2 linked regions of the Homo sapiens genome follow. The protein of the gene in region 2 interacts with the protein of the main gene of each other region in a pairwise test. Each region holds a gene or a part of one and is shown on either strand. Other genes may lie near its edges.

Region 1 (6,967 bases), on a different chromosome or scaffold from region 2:
CAGGGAACTACCCAAGATGGGAAATACCAAATTCACCTAAGAATTGAGCTGAGTCCCAGAAGCAAGCCAAGTGATAAACAGCACCAAAAAGAGTTGTTGGGGCTTCATCTGTTTGCTGTGGATCCCTGATCCTTGATGCTAATCTGCCTCTTTGTATCTTTCCCACTAACCCTGAAAAGAAGCCACATTTCTCAGGCTGAAGTGTCTGGCTCTCTTTTATTATTCCTGCTGCCACCTCTTCCTTTTTTTCCTCTTCCTTTTTCCCAGTTTGCTATCTAGATTGATGCTAGTCCTTCTCACCTAGAGTATCCTTACTTTTTCATACAGATAATTATCACCGTTTCTGCTCTGTTCTGGATCTGCCCCCTTTACTCCTCGGGGAACCCAAGGCCCCACTCTCGCTCTGGATTCCATTTGGGTCAGCCTGGCTGGTCCCCAAGGCATTAGGATGGGGGAGCAAAAAGCAACTTATGTATTTTCTTCCACCCCCACCCCAAATTAAAATGTTAAGCTGCTGGAAACCTCATGCCACCCTGCATTTGTGTCATTGACAAAGCTGTTGCTGTCCCTAAGAAGGAGCCTTGGGGGTGTGATGTGGGGAAGAGCTATTGTAGGCTCCCCCTCCTCTGACTTATGTAATCAAAGCCACTTTTGTGTGTGTCTATTTTTTCTTGACATTTAAACTCAGCTGATCTGATTCTACCAGAGTGATGGATTTAGTACAGGTTACTCAGGATAGTAATTTTAGTTATACTCCTCAAGCTGAACAAGATTAAATTCCTTATTTCCAGGTTCTTAAATCATCCTGCCTGCAGTGTTTCCATTCTCTCTTCAGGTATTCCTCCTTTGGTGTGGTGTCATTGAGAAGCCATTGAAGTGACTCTCAATACACATTCTGTACCCTTTTACCGGTGGTTCAAATGGTGCATCCTCAGAACACCCAGTGAACCCAATACATTATTGCTAAGATTGACTAATTATGTCAACTCCAGTCACAGAAAAATACACAATGGATAGAATTCTGGACGGTTTTTTTACTTTTTCTTCTTTAAACCTTTCTTACATATTTGAGACTTGCTACCATTTGCCTGCTAGTGTGTGACTAGTGGGATATAAGATAAGTGATAAATTATTATTGGGAAAACTAAAATGACCAATCATGCATATTTCAAATAATGTGCATATGAGGCTAATGATTTATTACATACATAAATTTCTGCTAGTAAAATTTTCCTTGGTTCATATTGTGGAATTAAATATCAACATTTTAGAAATTCCCATTATAGGCCGGGCGTGGTAGCTCACGCCTATAATCCCAGCACTTTGGGAGGCTGGGGCAGGTGGATCACCTGAGGTCATGAGTTCGAGACCAGCTCGGCCAACATGGTGAAACCCCGTCTCTACTAAAAATACAAAAATTAGCTGGGCATGGTGGGTGGGTGCCTGTAATCCCAGCTACTCGGGAGGCTGAGGCAGGAGAATCGCTTGCACCTGGGAGGCGGAGGTTGCAGTGAGCGGAGATCGCGCCACTGCATTCCAGCCTGGGCAACAGAGAGACTCCATCTCAAAAAAAAAAAAGGAATTCGCATTCCAATTTACACAGCAGAGATTTCTTAATAGTATAGCTGTGAATTATACTAATCCAAGCACGTAAGTGTTGTTCACTTAGTACTTTAGTTTCCCAGCAGGGTATGTATTTAAAATTTGCTTTTCTTTTAGCTGGGTGCAATGGCACTTGCCTGTACTGCCTGTAGCTTCTTGGGAGGCTGAGGCAGGAGGATTGCTTGAGCCCAGGAGTTCTGCACTGTAGTGTGCTATGCAGGTCAGATGTCCTCACTAAATTTGGCATCAGTATGGTGACCTCCTGGGAGTGGAGAACAACAAGGTTGCCTAAGAAGGGGTGAACTGGCCCAGGTCGGAAATGGAGCAGGTCAAAATTCCTGTGCTGATCAGTAGTGGGATTGCACCTATAAATAGCCACTGTAGTACTCCAGCCTGGGCAACACAGCAAGATTCCATCTGTTAAAAACACTTTTGCTCTTCTTTTAAACAGATATAATCAGGTAGGGAAGTTTTCCTTAATCTAAAACTTTAAGTCATATCAAATTCACGTTTCCTTTTGTCCATTCCATTTCTTACTGCCGCATAGCCTTTGAGATTAAGGTTCAGATTCATTTATTCAGCTGACACTTCCTGGTATCTTCTAGGTATAGGATATTAAGATGGAGACAGAAATAAAGATGGAGGCACCATTCCTACTCTCAAGTTGCTTAGAATCTACTAGGAGAGAAAACATACATAAAGCTACAGATACTGTGTGATGAATGCCACAAATAATAGTGTTATGGGAATTGAGTAGAGGGGACGAGATTGATCCTAGTGGGAATGAATTGGAAAAACTCATGGAAGAAGGCATGTAATGGGTACTTCATAAACATGTTAAAACTTTTTTCTTTTTTTCTTTTTTTTTTTTTTTTTGAGACGGAGTTTGACTCTTGTCACCTAGGCTGGAGTTCAGTGGCCTGATCTCAGCTCACTGCAACCTCTGCCTCCTGGGTTCAAGCAGTTCTCCCACCTCAGCCTCCCGAGTAGCTGAGATCACAGGCGCCTGCCACCACACCCAGCTAATTTTTGTATTATTAGTAGAGGTGAGGTTTCACCATGTTGGCCAGGCTGGTCTGGAACTCCTGACCTCAAGTGATCCACCCACCTCAGCCTCCCAAAGTGATGGGATTACAGGCTTGAGCCACTGCGCCCAGCCAACATGTTAAACTTGCATATTCATTTTTATTGGGTTCCAAAAGTGGATTTTTGACAAGCAGAGTTGGGTTGTGGGATAGTGAATATTGAGCATTCCATTATTTATTTATTTTTCTCTTTTTGAGATGGAGTCTCGCTCTGTCACCCAGGCTGGATGGAGTGCAGTGGTGAGATCATGGCTCACTGCAACCTCTGCTTCTTGAGTTCAAGCGATTCTCCTGTCTCAGCTTCCCGAGGAGCTGTGATTACAGATACCCACCACCATGCCCAGCTGATTTTTGTATTTTTAGTACGGACGGGGTTTCAGCATGTTGGCCAGGCTGGTCGCGAACTCCTGACCTCAAGTGATCCACCCGCCTCTGCCTCCCAAAGTGTTGGGATTACAGGCGTGAGCCACTGCACCTGGCCTGAGCATTCCATTTAAAGAGAAACAAAATAATAAAGGCATTGATAGAGATGAGAAGGCCACAATAGCTCTAAAGGTAGATTTAGACAGAGTAGGGAACAGGTTGTGTCTTAAAATGAGGCTGAGGAGTTATAATTTTACTTGGAGTTAATGGGGATGCCACTGGAGATTTTGAATAGGATATGTTGTGATCTGAATAACATATAAGAAGAATTAATTTGGTAACTAATTTGCAGATTAGCAAAGTGATTCACTAACATGGTGTTTCTCACATTTCAGCCATTTATGTTACCATTTTTGATGGCTTTTTCCATATTCATTGCTGCCTACATTGTTTTCTTCAGATCTACTCATTTCCAGATTTATTTTGTTCTTACTTGACACAATTCTATTTTGAAATCAAAGTTTTGATGTGTTAGTGTTTTTTCCTAATCACATTAAAGTAACTATAGCAGTGAATACACCACACTTTGGAAAAAATTGGGTTAGGTTAATTTAGTTTTCTAGGAGAGAATAATCAGGGTCTGAGCTAGAGTAGTGGCAGGAGAGATAGCACTAAATAAAGACAGGCATTGTGAAAGGCCTGGCCACTTGATGTGAGGAGGAAAGACAAGGATGACTGGTTTTTAGAGTAGGAGAATTAGCCGGGTGCAGTGGCTCATGCCTGTAATCCCTGCACTTTAGGAGGCTGAGGTGAGAGGATTTCTTGAATCCAGGAGTTCGAGACCAGCCTGGCAATAAAGTGAGAACCTGTCTCTACAAAATATAAAAACTTAGCCAAACATGGTGGTGCGTGCCTGCAGTCCTATCTACTTGGAGGGCCGAAGCCAGAGGATCCTTTGAGCCCAGGAGTCTGAGGCTGCAGCAAGCTGTGATCACACTGCTGCACTCCATCCTGGGTGGCAGAATGAGACCCCCCCCAAAAAAAGAGTAGGAAAGTGGTGGGGTTAAAGATGTAGGGAGATCATGTTGTCCTGGTTTGGGGAGCTGGGGGAAGGGAAAGAAGATACGGCTGACAATCTGGCAGGTATCTGGGTGAAAACAAAATTCTAGGGCGTGAGGCAGAGAGGTTGACATAAGAGAGTTGGGAATCCATATGGGGTACAGGTAGTTTATGCCATGGAGGTAAATTAGAACCATGAAGGACAATTGCAAATACAAAAAAAAGAGGCCAGGCACGGTGGCTCACGCCTGTAATCCCAGCACTTTGGGAGGCCGAGGTGGGCGGATCACGAGGTCAGGAGATCAAGACCATCCTGGCTGACACGTTGAAACCCCGTCTCTACTAAAAATACAAAAAATTAGCTGGGCGTGGTTGCGGGCACCTGTAGTCCCAACTACTTGGGAGGCTGAGGCAGGAGAATGGCGTGAACCCGGGAGGCGGAGCTTGTAGTGAGCTGAGATTGTGCCACGGCATTCCAGCCTGGGTGACAGAGCAAGACTCTGTCTCAAAAAAAAATTAAACAATGAGGAAAACGTTATGTAAGAGGAGGAACCAAATGGAACTGATTGGAGGGAAAGAAGACGGTTGAGTAGTTCTTTAAAAAGTTCCGGGTTGGATGCTTTCTAGTGGTTTTTCAACAGAGAGGCTAAGAAGGAAGATAACTGAAAATGGGACATGCATTGATACTTTAGTAATTTGAGGGTACATTTTGAGTGTTAAGAAGTGAAGAGGAGGAGTCATTTTCAGGGGCAAAAGAGTGTATTGGTAGGAAGATTATATAGGCAATATAATTTACTTTAGAGCAGGGCTTTCCAACAGAACTTTTGGTAATGATGTCTAGTACATTAGCCACATGTGGCAGTCAAGCACTCAAAACATGGCTAGTGTGGCTGAGGGGCTAAAATTTAATTGTATTTCATTGTAGTTCATTTAAATTTGGCTACCTGTGGCTAGTGGCTATTATATTGGACAATGCATTTCTAAATATTCAGATCCTGGGCAGAAGTTGGCTTTGACATGAAGAAAGACTTCTTAGAAAGGAAGGAAGTAGACCGGGCATGGTGGCTCATGCCTGTAATCCCAACACTTTGGGAAGCCGAGGCAGGTGGATCACAAGGTCAAGAGATCAAGACCATCCTGGCCAACGTGGTGAAAACCTGTCTCTACTAAAAATACAAAAATTAGCTGGACATGGTGGCACATGCCTGTAGTCCCAACTACTCGAGAGGCTGAGGCAGGAGAGAAAAAAAAGAAGGAAATAAGAGGGAGATTGGGAGAAAAGTAAGGTGTTATAGCTCTGATCTGTGGTATCTCCTGTTTTCCTTGCGGTATGACTAGTGTGAGCCAAGGATAGAGACCAACAAACTGGGGTACCAAAGTGGACAATGAAGTACTATGTAATTAGTGCTAATGCTAAATTCATTCCTTTGTTTAAGGCTTAATATCCTTGCAGAAGCCATCCTGTGTTACTTGAGCCTGGACTAGTATTGGGGTGAAGTCAAGCATCAGAGTAAAACATTTGTCCCCTTAATGTTACCCCCTCTTAATTTCTAAGAACCACAGGCCCATTTTGCCCTTCCTTGTTACCATCATTGAGATAAGGAATAAGATGTAGTAACCCCAAGTTATCTGATAGGTACAACTGACCTATTCTGTTTGGCAGCTTTATCTTAGACCTATTCTGTTTGGCAGCTTTATCTTAGCCCCAACCAAATCTCTTCCTTTCACATGGTGTTGGTTGAATACTATCCAACTCCATGGGGTTGGTTTGTGTTTTTTTTTTTTTTTTTTTTTGAGACGGAGTCTTGCTCTGTTGCCCAGGCTGGAGTGCGGTGGTGTGATCTTGGCTCACTGCAAGCTCCGCCTCCTGGGTTTAAGTGATCCTCCTGCCTCAGCCTCCTGAATAGCTGGGATTACAGGCACGTGCAACCAAGCCCGGCTAATTTTTGTGTTTTTAGTAGAGACTAGGTTTCAACATGTTAGGCTGATCTCAAACTCCTGACCTCGTGATCTGCCCGCCTCGGCCTTCCAAAGTGCTGGGGTTACAGACTTGAGCCACTGCACCTGGCCATGGGGTTGTTTCTTAATTAGATATAGCTGAAAAGAACGCTAGACCAAATAGGTTCTCTGCCTTGCCTTTTCGTTTGTTTTGTTTTAGCTATTATCAGGGAACCAAAAACTTTAAGGAGCTAGTACTGGTCTTAATTTTTAATAACTAGAGATAGCAGAGTTAGAAACTAAGTTCAAAGTGAGAGAACAGCTGCATTTGTCTTTCTGACCTCATGCAATTCCTAGGAAACTCTGTGTTCTGTGATTTAGTCAGGCAATAAAATGCTCTCACTCCTTCTCTGTCTCTTTATTTCTTCCCTAAATGGAAAAGAATTGACCAGGCTGCTTTGAGGGATAAAGATCCTGATAACGCGGCTGGGTGCGGTGGCTCATGCCTGTAATCCCAGCACTTTGGGAGGCGGGCAGATCACCTGAGGTCAGGAGTTCAAGACCAGCCTGGCCAATATGGTGAAACCCCATCTCTACTAAAAAAAAAAAATGCAAAAATTACCTGGGCGTGGTGGTGGGTGCCTGTAATCCCAGCTACTCAGGAGGCTGAGGCGAGAGAATCGCTTGAACCTGGGAGGTGGAGGTTGCAGTGAACCAAAATCGTACCATTGCACTCCAACCTGGGCAACAAGAGTGAAACTCAAAAAAAAAAAAAAAAAAAAAGGATCCTGATAACATCCTTCTTTCCCAAGTGAGAATCACACAAACTAACTTGGTTATAGGTATTATCTAAATTCAGGCTGTTCACGAGATCTATATGTAATGTAACATCACAGGAAATTTGAGAGATTAGTTCACAA
Region 2 (7,179 bases):
CTGAGGTGGGCGGGAACATGGGAGGAGCCTCGAGGAACGAAGGTGGGTAGAGACACGGGAGGAGTCTCCAGGAGCTGCGGTGGGCGGGGACACAGGGGAGGTTCCTCAAAGATCGTTTTTTGTTTTGTTTTGTTTTTTTTGAGGCGGAGTCTCGCTTGTCGCCCAGGCTGGAGTGCAGTGGCGCCGTCTTGGCTCACTGCAAGCTCCGCCTCCCGGGTTCACGCCATTCTCCTGCTTCAGCCTCCCCAATAGCTGGGACTACAGGCGCCCGCCACCACGCCTGGCTATTTTTTTGTATTTTTAGTAGAGACGGGGTTTCACCGTGTTAGCCAGGATGGCCTCGATCTCCTGGCCTCGTGATCCGCCCGCCTCGGCCTCCCAAAGTGCTAGGATTACAGGCGTGAGCCACCGCGCCCGGCCTAGATCTTAACCGGAAGGCGACAAGGCTGGGGTCTCCAAGAGCAGAGGAGGGAGTGCCCCGAAGGCAGTGACCTGAGCAAGGGAGGGACAGAATAAGGAACTTTTTAGTTCTGGGCTGCTGGGAGGCAGGTCCAGGCCTGGTGAAACTGAGGTGGGCGGGGCTTAGGAGAGGAGTGGTCCTGGAGGCACCACGTGGGGCAGAGTAGGGTGGGCAGTGCCTTGGGGGGCCAGTGTCTGGAGGAGCCCAGGTAGAGGTTGGGGACCTGACCAGGAAAGGGCCAAGATAGCCAATAAAGGAAGGGGATAAAGGCGGGGCTCTGGAGGACACGACCAAATTTCACCAAATGGAGGGTGCAATAAAATTTGGTGACCTGGGTGGGTCTGGAGCCACGGGCATGGTCTCAGTGGGGCGAGATAGGTGAGTCCTGTCCCACCTATCTCGTGGGGGTAGGTGGGGACCTGTTGAAGCCTAGCCCCTACCCATTCCCCTCCTCTGCCCCTCCAGGAGAGAGGTGTCCTCACTGACCGCCCGGTGGCATCAGGAGGAGGGGGCGGTGCAGGAAGCCCTGCGGCTGCTCGGGGGCCTGGGCGGCAGGGTCGACGGCTTCCTAGGCCAGTGGGAGCGGGCACAGCGCGAACAGGCACAGACGGCGCGGGACTTGCAGGAGCTGCGAGGTCGGGCGGATGAGCTGTGCACCATGTGAGGATTGGGGCCAGTGCATGGGAAGACCGGAAGGGGCAGGGCAATCCCAACCTGAGGGCGGGGTCTTGAGGGAAATGGGTAGGCCAATCAGCTATGGCCAGGCATTCCGGAACATATACCGACATCGGGAAACACCAATTAGAGAGCAGGAAGGGTTGCATCAGCCCTAATAAGGCCTGAGGGGTGGAATCAATTAGAGAAGGGGTGTGGTCTATACCTTAAAAGGGCAAAGGGTGGGGTCAAGTGGGATCCGAGAAAATCAATTAAGAGAACTAGGAGGGGCATTCCAAACAGTAATCTACAAAAGGTGGCCCAGTGAGGTGGCTCACATCTATAATCCCAGCACATTGGGAGGCCGACGTGGGCGGATTACTTGAGGCCAGGAGTGCAAGACAAGCCTGGGCCACATAGCGGAGACCCCATCTCTACAAACAATTTAAAAATTAGCTGGGAGTGGTGTGGTGTCGCACCCTGGTAGTCCTAGCCACTCGGGAGGCTGAGGCAGGAGTGATCGCTTGAGCCCAGGAGTTCAAAGCTTCAGAGAGCTATGATGGTGCTGCTGCACTCCAGCCTGGGCCACAGAGCCAGACCCTGGCTCAAAATAGTCAACAGATAAATAACATAACATAAAGTAAAATACAAAAAGTGAGGCCAGTCAGAGCAGAGAGGGGAGGGCAGGGTGGAGAATTGCTGACCAGATGGAGACGCAAGTGGTGGGCTAATAATGGGTGGAGTCTTGCCAGGGTTATACCGCTGAAGAGACGACCCAGCAGCACTGGTTACTCATGCCTCAGGGTGGAGCGGTCAGCAGTGTCTGTGGCTTCACTGAGGAGCGAACTGGAGGGGCTGGGCCCACTGAAACCCATTCTGGAGGAGTTCGGGCGGCAATTTCAGAACTCTCGAAGAGGGCCTGACCTCTCCATGAACCTGGATCGGTCCCACCAAGGCAACTGTGCCCGCTGTGCCAGGTAACGGGGCTGGGCTTGCCTCTGGGAGCCTTGTGGATAGGACATTAAAGGAGATGCGGAAGGAGATGGGACATTAGTGAAGGGTGGGGCGCTGTTCATTTTGGGAGACAAGGTATCCCAGTGCATTGTAGAAACAGCCGGTCCTGCTGCACTAGAAGCCTCATTTGTTCCCACTCTACAAGGTAGAATCAGTGTCTTGTGGAACTCAAGAGAAACTTGGTACAGGCCGGGCGCGGTGGCTCTCGCCTGTAATCCCAGCACTTCGGGAGACCAAGGTGGGCGGATCACTTGGTGTCAGGAGTTCGAGACTAGCCTGGCCAACGTGGTGAAACCCCGTATCTACTAAAAATACAAAAATTAGCTGGGCGTGGTGGCGCGTGCCTGTAATCCCAGCTACTCAGGAAGTTGGGGCATGAAATTCACTTGGACCAGGCTGGGCGCGGTGGCTCATGCCTGTAATCCCAGCACTTTGGGAGGCCAAGGCAGGCAGATCACAAGGTCAGGAGATCAAGAGCATCCTGGCTAACATGGTGAAACACCGTCTCTACTAAAAATACAAAAAAAAATTAGCTGGGCGTGGTGGCGGGTGCCTGTAGTCCCAGCTACTAGGAAGGCTGAGGCAGGAGAATGGCGTAAATCCGGGAGGTGGAGCTTGCAGTGAGCTGAGATCATGCCACTGCACTCCAGCCTGGGAGACAGAGTGAGACTCCATCTCAAAAAAAAAAAAAAAAAAAAAAGAAATTCACTTGGACCCGGGAGGCGGAGGTTGCAGTGAGCCGAGATCACGCTACTGCACTCCAGCCTAGTAGGTAGAGTGAAACTGTGTCTCAATAAAATAAAAATAAAATAAAAAGGGTGGACGCAGTGGCTCACACCTGTTATCCCAGCACTTTGGGAGGCCAAGACGGGCAGATCACTGAGGTCGGGAGTTTGAGACCAGCCTGGCCAACATGGTGAGACCCCATCTCTACTAAAAATACAAAAATTAGCTGGGTGTGGTGGTGAGCACCTGTAATCCCAGCTACTTGGGAGGCTGAGGCCAAAGAATCTCTTGAACCTGGGAAGTGGAGGGTGCAGTGAGCCAAGATCGTGCCATTTCACTCCAGCCTGGGCGACAGCAAGACTCCATCTCAAAAAAAAAAAAACACTTAGTACATTTTAAGCATCATATTTCCAGTGCATTGTGGGAAGGCTGGGATGTGAACATGAGGAGAGGCAGGGTTTCAGTGCACTGAGGGGGAAGTGAGACCTTGGTGTATTGTGAGAGCCGAGGGATACACCATTTTTGGCCCATTGTGGGAAGGTCCATTGTAGGAAAGGGGGACTCACAGTACAACATGAAATCGAGTTTCACTAGTGTATTATGGGAAATGTTAGTTCTTGACGGCCTTTGCAAACTGAGGGCTGTCTGGTGCCCTTAGGAATAGTGACTCTGGCTGGGCGTGGTGGCTTACGCCTGTAATCCCAGCACTTTGGGAGGCCAAGTGGGAGGATCACCGGAGGTCAGGAGTTTAAGACCGGCCTGGCCAACATGGTGAAACCCCATATCTACTAAAAACACAAAAATTAGCTAGGCGTGCTGGCGGGTGCCTGTAATACCTGCTACTCAGGAGGCTGAGGCAGGAGAATCGCTGAACTCAGGAGGCAGAGGTTGCAGTGAGCCAAGATGGTGCCACTGCACTCCAGCCTGGGTGACAGAGCGAGACTCCATCTCAAAAAAAAAAAAAAAAAAAAGGGCCGGGCCCGGTGGCTCATGCCTGTAATCCCAGCACTTTGGGAGGCCGAGGTGGGCAGATCACGAGGTCAGGAGATCAAGACCATCCTGGCCAACATGGTGAAACCCCGTCTCTACTAAAAATACAAAAATTAGCCGGATGTGGCGGCACATGCCTGTAGTCCCAACTACTTGGGAGGCTGACGCAGGAGAATTGTTTGAACCCGGTAGGTGAAGGTTGCAGTGAGCCAAGATTGCGCCACTGCACTCCAGCCTGGGTAACAGAGCCAGACTCCGTCTCAAAAAAAAAAGGAGTAGTGATCCCCAGAGCACCATGGAAACCAAGGGACAGCTGGTGCACAGTGCATGCTGGGAAGGTTGCATAGGGTGCATACTGGAAACGAGGCCAAATGGAGGCTCCACAGGTGAGCATGGGGCATGGGGCGTCCTGGAGTTGGTACTGGGCCTCTTTATCTGGTGACCGCCCCTCCCCCAGCCAGGGGTCGCAGTTGTCTACGGAGTCCCTGCAGCAGCTGCTGGACCGAGCACTGACCTCACTAGTGGACGAGGTGAAGCAGAGGGGCCTGACTCCTGCCTGTCCCAGCTGTCAGAGGCTACACAAGAAGATTCTGGTACCAGGGAATATGGGCCACCATGTCCCACTTTACTTTTCTGTTGGGGCAAGGGGAGGGGAACCCCGGACTCAAGGGTACTGCTGGTGTGTGGCAGAAGGGGAAGGGCTGAGCTGGGAGCAGCAGGCACTGGGGGAGGACTTGGCCCTAATGCATGGGGAGATGGACAAGCAGTTTGGTGGTGAGTGAGTCACAGGCCAATCATTACGCTACCTCGGAAGATGGACTTGGGCCTAAAGCATGATAGGACGTTGGATCTAGTGCATTGTGGGACACGAGACAGACACCAGTCTAAAGCTTCATGGAACATAGGCCTGATTTTCTCTAAACTTTTAGAGAGGCGGTGCATTGTACAAGATCATTGGGGTCAGCTATATTGAGGTAAAATAGGAGACCCAGTGACTGTAGGCCCCAGTTAGCTGATGCGTTATGGGAAATGGAACCACAGCTCTTCCTGGGGCATTGCACAACACACTCAGCCCAATAGTTGGTGGAACTTGAGCCCTAGTGCACTGTATTATGGGATATTGACCTAATGTACTATAGGATTATGTTGTAGTGGGTGAGACAGACAAGTGAGGCACTGTGGGACATTGATGTGGCCGAGCTATAGGACTAATACATGAGAGGAAATGGGGCTTGGTGCAGTTGTACGTAGAGAACCAGGGCACTAAGGACTGTTTTTTGTTTGTTTGTTTGTTTGTTTTGAGATGGAGTCTCGCTCTGTCGCCCAGGCTGGAGTGCAGTGGCGCAATCTCGGCTCACTGCAAGCTCTGCCTCCTGGGTTCACGCTATTCTCCTGCCTCAGCCTCCCAAGTAGCTGGGACTACAGGCGCCTGCCACCATACCTGGCTAATTTTTTGTGTTTTCAGTGGAGACAGGGTTTCACCGTGTTAGTCAGGATGATCTCGATCTCCTGATCTCGTGATCCGCCTGCCTCAGCCTCCCAAAGTACTGGGATTACAGGCGTGAGCCACTGCGCCCGGCCTTTTTTTTTTTGGAGACAGAGTCTCGCTCTGTTGCTCCAGGCTGGAGTGCAGTGGCGCCATCTTGGCTCGTTGCAACCTCCACCTCCCAGGTTCAAACGATTCTCGTGTCTCAGCCTCCTGAGCAGCCAGGATTACAGGCATACACCACCACGCCCAGCTAATATTTGTAGTTTTAGTAGAGATGGGGTTTCACCCTGTTGGCCAGGCTGGTCTCGAACTCTTGACCTTAAGTGATCCACCCGTGTCGACCTCCCAAAGTGCTGGGATTACAGGCGTGAGCCACTGCGCCCGGCCAGGACTTTTGTGTGAGAGGTGCTGGTCTAATGGATAAGGAGATGTGGGGTCTTCCAAATTATGGAATGTAGGAGGTCACCATGTGGTAGAATACTGGGGTGCACACACATATCAAATGTAGGATAGTTCATGAGCTTAGGAGACAGACGATAGGCACTGATTTAGTGCTTGCTGGGACATAGGTCAGTGCATCATGGGACAGACAATAGGACAGACACAGATTTAGTCCACAGCGGAATCTGGAGACCAGTGCATTGTGGGATGCTGGGGTCAGTCTCAAGCTCAAGGCATGATGGGAAACTCTGAGGGAGAAATGTGGGCCCCATGGGACCCTACCCTTTGCCCTCCGCAATCCAGTTCCCCCTCCACCCCCAGCCCAGTCCAGCAAGCCCAGCTACGCCTACGCTCCTCTCCCCAGGAGCTGGAGCGCCAGGCCTTAGCCAAACACGTCAGGGCAGAGGCCCTGAGCTCCACCCTTCGGCTGGCCCAAGACGAGGCCCTGCGGGCCAAGAACCTACTGCTGACAGACAAGATGAAGCCAGAGTGAGGAAGGAGGCTGAGGGCATGGGAGGAGGGTGAGATCTTGGGGAAAGGGCCTGATCTCCCCTTCCACTCCAACACCCCAGCACCTAGCCATGCCGCCATCAACTCCCCGCTGCCTCATGACAGGGAGAAGATGGCCACTCTGGACCATCTACACTTGAAGATGTGCTCCCTCCACGATCATCTCAGCAACCTGCCACTTGAGGGGTCCACGGGAACAATGGGGGGAGGCAGCAGTGCAGGAACCCCCCCAAAACAGGGGGGCTCAGCCCCTGAACAATAAATGGCCTCTCATGCTAGCATGAATTCTGTCTGCTTTTTGGGACCAGAGTCCTAGTGAATTGCACACACACCATGCACTCCCTCTATGCCCAATGTGATTTATTTATTTTAATTAATTAATTAACTTTATTATTCTTTTTGAGACAGATTCTCACTCTGTCGTCCAGGCTGAAGTGCGTGTGATCTCGGCTCACTGCAACCTCCACATCCTGGGTTCAAGCAATTCTCCTGTCTCAGCCTCCCGAGTAGCTGGGATTACATTCGCACACCATCATGCCTGGCTAAGTTTTTGTATTTTCAGTAGAAACAAGGTTTCCCCATGTTGCCCAGGCTGGTCTCAAACTCCTGAGCTCAGGCAATCTGTCTGCCTTGGCCTCCCAAAGTGCTAGGATTACAGGTGTGAACCACCACACCCAGCCCACTGTGATTTATTTAATTTTCAGCAAACAGGATGTCGTGGTCCCCACAGAGGTGCTGGTGGTGGTACAGTTCTTTGAGATGGCAATGGTGGTAGAAACAAGGTTCTGTGGTATAGTATAGGTCTGTCAAGTCAACATTTTTTAGGCTGATTATTACTAGATAACTATATTAGTTGTCTATTGTTGTGTAAAAATACCCCATAAGTTAGTTGCTT

The links. Proteins that work in one complex are often made in the same cells at the same time.
Region 1: the proteins of TSKS (region 2) and TPM3 interact in binary tests that used the Homo sapiens proteins (3 or more experiments, as listed by UniProt).

What each region holds. Positions count from the first base shown.
Region 1 is NC_000001.11:154,161,301-154,168,267, reverse strand, and holds the end of TPM3 (tropomyosin alpha-3 chain), read left to right. Parts: intron 1-327; coding exon 328-331; 3' UTR 332-6,455; downstream 6,456-6,967. UniProt on the Homo sapiens protein: Binds to actin filaments in muscle and non-muscle cells. Plays a central role, in association with the troponin complex, in the calcium dependent regulation of vertebrate striated muscle contraction.
Region 2 is NC_000019.10:49,739,143-49,746,321, reverse strand, and holds the end of TSKS (testis-specific serine kinase substrate), read left to right. Parts: intron 1-925; coding exon 926-1,120; intron 1,121-1,917; coding exon 1,918-2,091; intron 2,092-4,301; coding exon 4,302-4,437; intron 4,438-6,138; coding exon 6,139-6,263; intron 6,264-6,389; coding exon 6,390-6,546; 3' UTR 6,547-6,562; downstream 6,563-7,179. UniProt on the Homo sapiens protein: May play a role in testicular physiology, most probably in the process of spermatogenesis or spermatid development.